Linked DNA regions of Homo sapiens: region 2 is linked to region 1. A link means that fine-mapping ties the variant in region 1 to the expression of a gene that starts in the linked region. Tissue or cell type: cerebellar hemisphere. Region 1 holds a variant in brackets; the other region holds the start of a gene. All regions are shown on one strand. Distances are between the middles of the regions.

Region 1 (6,090 bases):
ATCAGCTCTTTTGTGTTCCCCTACATCTTTAGAGAGTTACAGGGGAAGCCTGTGGATGTGTCTGGGGGACAAGAAAGATGGACACCACAGCAGATGGGAGTCCTGTCCTGTCCTGCCTCTGGAAGTGGGCACCTCACAAGGAGAGGAAGGGATGCTGTATTCCTAGAGCTTCCATCCCCCTCCTGCCAGAACCGAACAGCACCTGGGAGCTGAAGTCATGCTGCTGCAGCTGGCGGCCCTCCCGCAGGTCCCAGCAGCGCACCGTGTTGTCCAGGCCCCCTGTCCAGAGCCGAGTGCCGTAATCGGAAATATCAATGCAGCTGGCGCCGTCCGTGTGGCCCTGGAACTGCCTGGAGGGAGAAGGGCCCAGGCGTCCATCCTGGAATTCGAGCTGCCCCAGCATCGTCCCAGGTCACACTCCTCCACTCCCCCTGCACCGAGAGCGGCCGGGGGCTTGCCCAAGGTCCCAGCGCACCTGCCACCCACCTGACCATAGTCTGATTCTGCAGGTCCCAGACCACAATGTTGCCATCGCTGCAGCAGGAGAAGCAAACCTTGGCGTCGGGGCTGACGGCCAGGGCGTAGCAGGCTGGGGCTGAGGAAGTCAGCTCGGCCTTGATACGGGGGGTGGGCGCCGCCAGGTCCCAAATGGACAAGGTGCTGGCCTCACCGCCCACGATCAGACTCCGGCCATCCGGCAGCAACTTGCAGGAACGAATGTAGTTGTCTCGGTTCTGGGGTCGGGGAGAGAAGCAGGGGCTGGGGGTTGGTCCCAGGTGAGGTCTCTAGGAGCCTAGCTCAACGTGGGGGTCTCTGGAGCCCAATGTAGCCTCATCCTGATTAGCCTGCAAGCCCTACCCTGATTGGCTGGTGAGCCCCGCCCCTTTGACCTGCAAACACTGCCCCATCTGACTATAAGCTCCATCCTTTACCTATAAGCCCCACCCATGGTTGGCCTGCAAACCCTGTCCTGATTGTCTTGCAAGTCCAATTCAGATTGGCCAGAGCCCCACCCCTTTGGCCTGCAAGCCTTGTCCCATGCGACTACGAGCTCCGCCCCTCACCTATAAGCCCCGCCCTTCACCTGTAGCCCCACCCACGGCCAGCCTGCGAACACCGCCCCATTGGAACATAAGCCCCACCCCTCACCTGTGAGTCCCGCCCACTGTCCCACCCCGCCCTCACCAGGCAGTCGAGCTGGGCCACGGGCGTCTTGGCCCCAGGCTGGCCCACGTCCCACACCTTCACACAGCCCTTGCCGCCCGTGTACACATGCTGTGTGGAGCCGCTGATGGTGACCGCGCAGACCACCTCGCCATGGGCCAGCGTGTGCAGCTGCCGGGCGTGCCGCGGGATGCCCGCGCCTACCAGTGCATCCGAGGGGAAGGGAACCGGCTGCATCTGCCCGTCCGCAGACACGTGGAAGGAGTAGGCCCTGGAGAGAAAGCCGGGGCATGACCCAGCCCTGGGCACCACGCCCCCGCACCCGCACCTGGGAGGGCAGGGAGACGCCTTTGTCCTGCCTGGCACCCTCTGATGTGTTTTTTATTTTTTGTTTTGTTTTTTGAGAGGGAGTCTCGCCGTGTCGCCCAGGCTGGAGTGCAGTGGCCCGATCTCAGCTCACTGCAACCTCTGCCTCCTGGGTTCAAGCGATTCTCTTGCCTCAACCTCCCGAGTAGCTGGGATTACAGGCATGCGCCACCATGCCTGGCTAAGTTTTTTGTATTTTTAATAGAGACAGGGTTTCACCATGTTGGCCAGGCTGGTTTTGAACTCCTAACCTCAAGTGATCTGCCCGCCTCGGCCTCCCGAAGTGCTAGAATTACAGGCGTGAGCCACCATGCCCAGCCTGATGCGTTTGTTTCTTTTTTGAGATGGAGTCTCGCTCTGTCACCCAGGCTGGAGGGCAGTAGCGTGATCTGGACTCACTGCAAACTCTGCTTCCGGGGTTCAAGTGATTCTCCTGCCTCAGCCTCCCAAGGAGCTGGGATTACAGGTGCAGGCCACCACGCCTGGCTAATTTTTTTGTATTTTTAGTAGAGATGGGCTTTCACCATGTTGCTCAGGCTGGTCTCAAACTCCTGACTTCAAATGATCCTCCCACCTCGGCCTCCCAAAATGCTGGGATTACAGGCATGAGCCACCGGGCCCAGCCTCTGATGCATTTTTTAAAGTAATTTTCTCTGTTATTATTTTGTAGAGATGAGGTCTTGCTATGTTGCCCAGGCTGGCCTCAAACTCCTGGTTTCAAGTGATCCTCCCGCCTTGGCCTCCCAAAGCACTGGGATTACAGGAGTGAGCCATGGTGCTCGGCCTCTGATTTAGGAAAAAGGCAGGACAATGTGGTCAAAGGTGATATGGGACAGTCAGTGGGTGGCACAAATACACAGGGAGTCTAGGTTGTGGTGTGGCGCATGGTAAACAAGCACTTAATAAATGTTCGTTCAACCGAGGACCCACAAAGAAACCTTGAGTGTTCCAGACCAGCTAGAGGGTCTGTCCTAGGAGCCCCGGCCACCTGTGACCAGTTAAAACACTTAAATGAACTGAAATTAAATAAACATTTTCAGGCCGGCACAGTGGCTCACACCTGGAATCCCAGCACTTCGAGAGGCCAAGGTGGGTGGATCATTTGAGGTCAGGAGTTCAAAACCAGCCTGGCCAACATGGTGAAACCCTGTCTCTACTAAAAATACAAAAATTAGCCGGCGGTGGTCCGTGCCTGTAATCCCAGCTACTCAGGAGGCTGGAGCAGGAGAATCGCTTGAACCCAGGAGGTGGAGGTTGCAGTGAGCTCAGATCTCACCACCGTACTCCAGCCTGGGGGACAGAGCGAAACTCAGTCTCAGAAAACAAAACAAAACAAAACAAAACTTTTCAGCTCCTCAGTTGCACTGACCACATTTCAAGTACTGAAAGCCACGCCCAGCTGGTGGCGACTGGGTTGGCCAGCAGTGGGTCTAGAACACTTCCATCACTGCAGAAAGCTCTGTGGACACTGTGGCCAGATCTCCTCTGGTGGAGCCATCCTGGACAATGCAGGATGCTAAGCAGCATCCCTGGCCTCCACACTCCAGGCCAGGAACGTCTCCTCCCCCAGCTGTGACAACCACACGTGTCCCCCGACATCGCCCAGTGTCCCCTGGGGGGTCAGAGTCTACTTCTATGGAGAGCCAGTGGAACTCTGAGTAGCTTATGCAAGAGACTTTTTTTCTTTTTTCTTTTTTTTTTTTTGAGACTGAGTCTCGCTCTATTGCCCAGGCTGGAGTGCAATGGCACGGTCTCAGCTCACTGCAACCTCCACCTCCCAGGTTCAAGTGATTCTCCTGCCTCAGCCTCCCGAGTAGCTGGGATTACAGGTGCCCGCCACCACGTCCGGCTAATTTTTGTATTTTTAGCAGAGACATGGTTTTGCCATGTTGGCCAGGCTGGTCTTAAATTCCTGACCTAAAGTGATCCACCTGCCTCAGCCTTCCAAAGTGCTGGGATTACAGGAGTGAACCACTGTGCCCGGCCCACACAAGAGACTTTCTAGAAGGGAAGCAGGGAGACCCCAACCACAGAGGGTAAGACCTCAGAGGAGGTGGGGGGCTGGCCCGGGACCCCAGGCAGGGAGCCC[C/CA]ACCCTGGTACTCACGGCTTTCCCCCAGGGATGCTGGGTAGGGAGGAAGAGACGGATGACCCTCGGAGATGGGGATGAGACTCAAATGCCATCTGTGAGAATGCCAGGGGGGTGTCAGTGAGGCAGGTGACTCCAACCCACCTCTGTGCCACCCCACGCCCACCTGCCATACCCCTCTCTGTTTATCACCCCTCCCCAAGGCAGCAGAGATGCCTTCTCTCTGCCTGTCACACTACAGATGAGAGGGCTGAGGTTTTCACTTGAGCACACCGACACCAAAATCTCTATCCAGGAAATCCTAGAACTCCACGGTTCCAAGGATCCTGAAGGGTTCTCCATCCAATGCCCAGACTGGCTCTAGGCCAGGGTTCTGAAAACTCCAGCCCCTCCCAGGACAAATCTGGTCCACTGCCTGTTTTTGTAAACAGTGTCCCGAGGCCAAGGCCCTACTGCTCCTCTTCATGCAGCTTAATCGCTGTTGCGTTTTTCCACAATCAGAAGTCTTGCTTTGTATTAAGCTTGTGGGACTACTGAGACCCCCAGATTGTCTTCCCATGCATACTTGCTGAGCCAGGGCTCCCTTCCCTTTCTGCACTCCCTTGTCTCTCCTTGTGTAGTTGGTTTCTCCTCCCGGCCCCCAGCCCCTGGGCCCTGCTGACACCTCCTGCGCCCCCACCCAAGGACTCACCACGGGGGAGCGTCCGTACACCACAGAGCTGCTGACCTGGGGGGACAGGTGGAGGCTGACGTAGGAGCTGGGCACGGAGAGGTCTCCGTTGAGAGTGCTGTGGGAGCCCAGGCTGAAGGACGTGGTGAAGGGACTGGACAGAGTCAGGGGGCTCCTCAGGGCTGAGACGGAAGAGTCGGGGACAGGTTTTGACGCCCTGGACCCAGATCCCGCCTCCCACTGCCTTGGGAGCTCCCTGGCCTTTCATTTAGAGTTTCCATGTGCTGGTTCCACATTGGCCATAGCCTGGGACACCTCCAGACCTCTGCACTATCGTTCCTCCAGTGGACACGACTTTCTCTCTCTCTTTTTTTCTTTTGTTTGAGATGGAATCTTGCTCTGTCGCCAGGCTGGAGTTCAGTGGCGCGATCTCGGCTCACTGAAACCTCTGCCTCCTGGGTTCAAGCAATTCTGCTGCCTCAGCCTCCTGAGTAGCTGGGACTATGGCCATTCTCCTTCTTTTAATTGGCAAACTCCTATCCATCCTTCAAAACCCAGGCCCACCGAGCACAGTGGCTCACGCCTGTAATCCCAGCACTTTGGGAGGCCGAGGTGGGCGGATCACCTGAGGTCAGGAGTTCAAGACCAGCCTGACCAACATGGTGAAACCTGGTCTCTACTAAAAATACAAAAATTAGCTGGGCATGGTGGTGCATGCCCGTAATTCCAGCTACTCAGGAGGCTGGGGCAGGAGAATTGCTTGAACCTGGGAGCGGGAGGTTGCAGTGAGCTGAGATGGTGCCATTGCACTCCAGCCTGTGTAACAAGAGTGAAACTCCGTCTCAAAAAAAAAGGAAAAAAAAAAACAAAACCCAGGCCCAATGTCCATTAACATCTCAGAAACATCCTTGAGCCTCCCCATTGCCAACCTCCAGCCCTGCCCATCTTGGGTACCTGCCTTGGTACCAGCCCTGACTATACAGGGCTGTGAGTTTTGGGGTCTGGGTCCTGTCCCTTTTTGCCACCTGGGAGTTCCTTGAGGGCAGATTCCAAGGCCAGCTTCTTTCAGGGGCCCCAGAACCAGCCCAGGGCCTGACCATAAGGCAGAAAAGATGAGCACTGTCATTCCTCAGATTACTGATGGGGAAACTGAGGCTCAGAGAGGTTGGGTCACTTGCCCGAGGTCACCCAGCTGGTGAATGCCCAAGCCTGGTCTGAAACCCAAGTCTGTCTGGCCCCAAAGATTGTCTTTCCAGTGCACTAGGCTGAAACCCCCGACTAAGCCGCTTCCACTCTCCAGGCCTCAGTTTCCCTACCCGCCGAGCTGACACAATGAGGAACTGCCCAGAGGGAGGCAGCGTCTAACTTGAAGTCACAAAAAGGACCAAGGCAATGAACACCAAGCCTGGAATCCCAGCATTCTGCCTCTCCAGCCCCTTTTCCTAGATCTCCCCAGAGACGAGGCCTGCTCCAGACAGGCACCAACAGGCAAGGTGCTCACCGACGCTGTCCGTGGAAGGTGCTGGCTTGGCAGCAAGCTGGCAGAGGTGACTGGCCGAGCTGGGCCCGGGGGTGGAAGCGTCCTGGGGCGGGGAGGAGTCACAGGATTTGGAGGCAGGAGTGCTGGCGGGAAGGTCATTCTGCAGAGAAAGGGCAGGACTGAAGGCCACCAGGCACCTGGTGTCTTGTGGCCCAACGATCTGATCAGAAACTGGGGTTGGGGGCGGCCAGTCGCAGTGTCTCACACCTGTAATCCCAGCACTTTGGGAGGCCCAGTCGGGCGGATCACCTGAGGTCAGGAGTT
Region 2 (5,000 bases), 31 kb before region 1:
GGTGGAGGTGGGAGGATCACTTGGGGTCAGGAGTTCAAGACCAGCCGGGGCAATGTACTGAGACTCCCCTCCCCCTCGCCCTGTGTTTAAAAAAAAAAAGAGGAAATAAAGGGAAATATAGGGAAGGGAAGGGAGGGTTGGGAGGTCTCTTCAATGAGATCCTTCCTTCCTTCCTTCCTTCCCTCCCTCCCTCCCTTCTTTTTTTTTTTTTGAGATGGAGTTTCACTCTTGTTGCCCAGGCTAGAGTGCAATGGCACGATCCTGGCTGACTGCAACCTCCACCTCCCGGGTTCAAGCGATTCTCCTGCATCAGCCTCCCAAGTAGCTGGGATTACAGGCGTCTGCCACCACACTCAGCTGACCTTTGTATTTTTAGTAGAGATGGGGTTTTGCCATGTTGGCCAGGCTGGTCATGAACTCTTTTCTTCTTTTGAGGCAGAGTACTCTGTCGCCCAGGGTGGAGTGCAATGGCGACATCTTGGCTCATTGCAACCTCTGCCTCCCAGGTTCAAGTAGCTGGGATTACAGATGTGCATCACCGTGCCCGGCTGATTTTTGTATTTTTAGTAGAGGTAGGGTTTCAGCATGTTGGCCAGGCTGGTCTGGAACTCCTGACCTCAAGTGATCTCCTGCTTCGGCCTCTCAAAGTGCTGGAATTACAGGCGTGAGCCACCACGCCTGGCCTGATGTGGTGATTTTTTTTTTTTTTTTCTGAGACAGAGTCTTGCTGTGTCACCCTGGCTGAAGTGCAGTGGCACAATCTCGACTCACTGCAACCTCCGCCTCCCAGGTTCAAGTGATTCTTCTGCCTAAGCCTCCAGAGTAGCTGGGACTACAGGTGCCTATCACCATGCCTGGCTAATTTTTGTATTTTAGTAGAGCTGGGGTTTTCTTTTTTTTTTTTTTTTTTTGAGACAGAGTCTTGTTCTGTCGCCCAGTCTGGAGTGCAGTGGCGCAATCTTGGCTCACTGCAAGCTCCGCCTCCCGGGTTCACGCCATTCTCCCGCCTCAGCCTCCTCAGTAGCTGGGATTACAGGCACCCACCGCCACGCCCGGCTAATTTTTTTGTATTTTTTATTAGAGATGGGGTTTCACCGTGTTAGCCAGGATGGTCTCGATCTCCTGACCTCGTGATCCACCCGCCTCGGCCTCCCAAAGTTCTGGGATTACAGGTGTGACCCGGCCAAGCTGGGGTTTCACCATGTTGGCCAGGCTGGTCTCGAACCCCTGACCTCAGATGATCCACCCACCTCTGCCTCCCAAAGTGCTGGGATTACAGGCGTGCACCACAGCACCTGGCCCAACGTGGTGATTTCTAAGTAGGGAGCTGAGGGAGTAAGGAGCCAGCCGGTGGCTGTCTGAGAGAGACTGTCCCTGGCAGAGTGAACTGCTAATGCCAGTACCAGGTCCTGGGCCAAACAGAAAGAAACGGGCTCTCACTCCAGAACTGCAGCTTGACCACTATATATATAATATATATACTTTATATATATTATAGCTATATATTTTTTTGAGATGGAGTCTTGCTCTGTTGCTCAGACTGGAGTGCAGTGGCACGATCATAGCTCACTCCAGACTCAACCTCCTGGGCTTACGCCATCCTCCTGCCTCAGCCTCCCCAGTAGCTGAGACTACAGGTGCATGACCACCACACTTGGCTAATTTTTAAATTTTTTGTAGAGACGCGGTGTCACTGTGTTGCCCAGGCTGGTCTCCAACTCCTGGCCTCAAGCAATCCTCCCACCTCAGCCTTCCAAAATGCTGGGATCACAGGTGTGAGCCATGGTGACTTGGCTTCATATTTTGAATAGGCCAAAACAAAACTCCGAAATCCCCTTACTCCTATCCCCACGACCCCACACAGCAGGTTTCTCTCGCTCTGCAGCAACCCACTTACCTCTCGGAAATCATCCCAGGCCTGTTCGGAGTGCACGCAGCCCCGTTAGCCTCCCTGGCTGCTCCTGTAACCAGCCCAGCTCTGCCTGAGAGGTTCCGCTATTCCCTCCGTCTGGAATACCCACCACTCTCTCCCACCCCGCGCTTGCATCCGGCAATACTGTATCAGCCTCAGGGCCTCTGCTGTCCCGCTTTCTGCTCTCAGAGCCTTTGTCACTGGGCTGGAAGAGCAGTTGGGAAAATTCGGTGATAAATGCATAGCCCGGGGCTGGGACCATCAAGGGGACCCAGTAAGTTGGCTCCAGAAAGAGGACTTGAAGCTTCGTTTGCATTGCACGTTATTTAATATTGAGGAAAATGTAATTAGCCCGTATCTAAGAATTGGGGTGACAGCGCTAAAGATTGAACCCACCCACCTCCCACTCCTCACCTCCAGCCATAAGCCACTTCCGGACAAGGCTAAAAATGCGTAAAACAATGCAACTACTCGCCACCTATCCCTGCCCAAGTTCCAGCCTCTGAGCCTCAAGCCCCACGCCCTCCTAAATATCCCCGCCCCCGCTGGGACCCCAAATTGCCTATAGCTCTGCAAGTCCGCCCTTCCCGGCAGCGGGACCGAAAGGGTAAAGCAGAGGCTCCCGGCTCGCTGAGTGACAGCATGGCCGGCGGCCGGGGAGAGCCGACCAATCAGGGAGGGCGTACGCGACCCACGTGCGTAAACGGCCTCGCTATTGGCCGGCGCCGCCAGAGGCCTGCCCCCCCCGGAGCCCGAACCCACGTGCAGCTACTGCGCCTTCATTGATCTGCTTCGCGGTCCAGGTGGCGGCTGGGTGGGGCCTGGGCGGGACGGGGCGGGGACAAGGCGGGACGAGGCGGGGCCCGATGGGTCAAATGGCCCCCGGTGGGGGAAGGAGGAGTTTCCTCTTGGCCTGAACTTGGCTGACCTCCGCAGCTTCCGCCCGGTGAGGGACGTGAGTTGCCAGGCGTGTTCTAGGGGGCTGGGGGGACTCCAGGATTCCCGGCCGGGGAAGGGGCTGCAGGGGCGTGGAGGGGCAGGACTGAGGCAAGGAAGAAGCTGGGTGCTGCAGCAGGGATGGAGGTGGAGAGAGGTCGTTTCTTCTGTCTGATGAATTCCGCCTAATGCACCTGGCTAACTCCTAGTCATCCTTCAAAACCCCTTTCTAGTGATCTCCCTGCGCTTTAGGAAATTGTCTCAAAACTAAGGTTGAGCTTTGGCGACCTTCCCTGGGCTCCCCCGTCCCTGACTGCCCCCAGCAGGGAGTGTATGTGCACTATCCACCCCAGCCTCCTAGGGTGAGGCCTGGGAGGCAAGGCTCAGTTCTTTCTGGGTCCCCGCCCCCATGAATCTGGGCAGCTGGAGGCATTGATAAGTGAGGACAGGACCTAGGGAACGCATGGGAGAACCGCAGGATTGGGTCCCTGGAGACTTACCAAACTGGGAGGTGCGGGTGGGGTAACGGGTGCCTTGCTTCCCTGGCACTGCCTTATTTTCTGTCCCTCAAGACCTGCCGTCTCCTTGTTGTTTTAGACTCTGGCTAAAGTCTTGGAGGCTACTGCCTTGAAGATGACCTCTAGGGACCAGCCCAGACCCAAGGGCCCCCCGAAAAGCACTTCGGTGAGGAGGGCATGTGGTGGGATCAGCCCTCAAGGGAAACCCGGGCCCAATGTGGTTCTGCCCCTTTTCCACCTGTGACCTGGGCTGGCCCCGCCCAGGCCTCGCAGCTGAAGACAATACTGGTCGCTGCTACACTCAAGACAGGTGCCAAGGAGCCGTGTTTTTTAAAAAAAATTAAGTGTAGGCTGGACACTGTGGCTCACAACTGTAATCTCAACATTTTTGGAGGCCGAGGCAGGAGGACCACTTGAGCCCAGGAGTTTGAAACCAGCCTGGACAACGTAGTGAGACCCTGTCTCTGTAAAAAATAAAACTAGAAGAATCAGCTGGGCCTAGTGACGTGGGCCTGTAGTTGCAGCTACTTGGGAGGCTGAGGCAGAGGGTTGGCTTGAGCCCAAGGAGTTTGAGGCTGCAGTGAACTATGATGGTGCCACTGCACTCCATCCTTGGTGACAGTGAGATCCCATCTAAAAAAAAATGTAGCATCTAATCACATATGTGATAAAAACACAGGAACACATCATGTATTTGGTTGATGTTTTACAAGCAATCCCCGCTCCCTGCACTTTGCGTCCCAGAGATGACCATTTGTAAATTTAGGCTCTCAGGGCTGAGCAGACGTTTTTTTTTGTAAAGGAGTCAGATGAGGGATATTTTGTTTTGAGACTTTATGATTTTATTATGTTTGAGACGGAGTCTCACACTCACCTCGGCTGGAATGCAATGGCGCAATCTCAGCTCACTGCAACCTCTGCCTCCCGGGTTCAAGTGATTCTCCTGCCTCGCCTCCCGAGTAGCTGGGACTACAAGCACCTGCCACCATGACCACCAAATTTTTCTTGTATTTTTAGTAGAGACTGGGTTTCACCATGTTGGCCAGGCTGGTCTCGAGCTCCTGACCTCGTGATCTGCCTGCCTCAGCCTCCCAAAGTGCTGGGGTTATAGGTGTGAGCCACCACACTTGGCCAAGAGACTTTATTTTATTGAGTCTTGCTCTTGTTGCCCAGGCTGGAGTGCAGTGGCGCGATCTCGGCTCACTGCAACCTCCACCTCCCAGGTTCAAGTGATTCTCCTGCCTCAGCCTCCCGAGTAGCTGGGATTACAGGTGCGCGCCACCACGCCCGGCTAATTTTTGTATTTTCAGTAGAGACGGGGTTTTGCTGAGTTGCCCAGGGTTGTCTCAAACTCCTGACCTCAGGTGTTCTGCTCACCTCGGCCTCCCAAAGTGCTGGGATTACAGGCATGAGCCACCTTGCCCGGACTTTTATTTTTAAAAATATTTTGTGCTTCTATTTTCATCACAAGAATGTGGTGAACATTTTAGACTTTAGGCCAAAGTGCAAAATGGAAGATGCTCTTTACTGAAATAAGAGAGGCCGGGCGCGGTGGTTCATGCCTGTCATTCCAGCACTTTAGGAGGCCGAGGCGGGTAGATCATGAGGTCAGGAGGTTGAGACCAGCCTGGCCA

Evidence for each region. PIP is the estimated chance that this variant, and not a neighbour inherited with it, causes the effect.
Region 2: TLE6 starts here. The variant in region 1 is fine-mapped to the expression of TLE6 in cerebellar hemisphere (GTEx, PIP above 0.99).

The regions. Positions count from the first base shown.
Region 1 is chr19:3,005,235-3,011,324 of GRCh38, forward strand. It overlaps TLE2 (TLE family member 2, transcriptional corepressor), which reads right to left. Exons shown (of 20, transcript NM_003260.5): 12 at 5,788-5,926; 13 at 4,308-4,468; 14 at 3,635-3,711; 15 at 1,186-1,435; 16 at 487-734; 17 at 203-350. Among named protein-coding and RNA genes, the nearest start is that of TLE2, 21 kb to the right of the region's middle. RefSeq lists an enhancer at 881-1,815 and a silencer at 1,924-2,121. The variant C/CA (reference allele first, on the strand shown) is at 3,620.
Region 2 is chr19:2,974,753-2,979,752 of GRCh38, forward strand. It overlaps TLE6 (TLE family member 6, subcortical maternal complex member), which reads left to right and starts at 2,812. Exons shown (of 17, transcript NM_001143986.2): 1 at 2,812-2,858; 2 at 3,446-3,532. The coding sequence starts at 3,482. RefSeq lists a silencer at 2,534-2,843.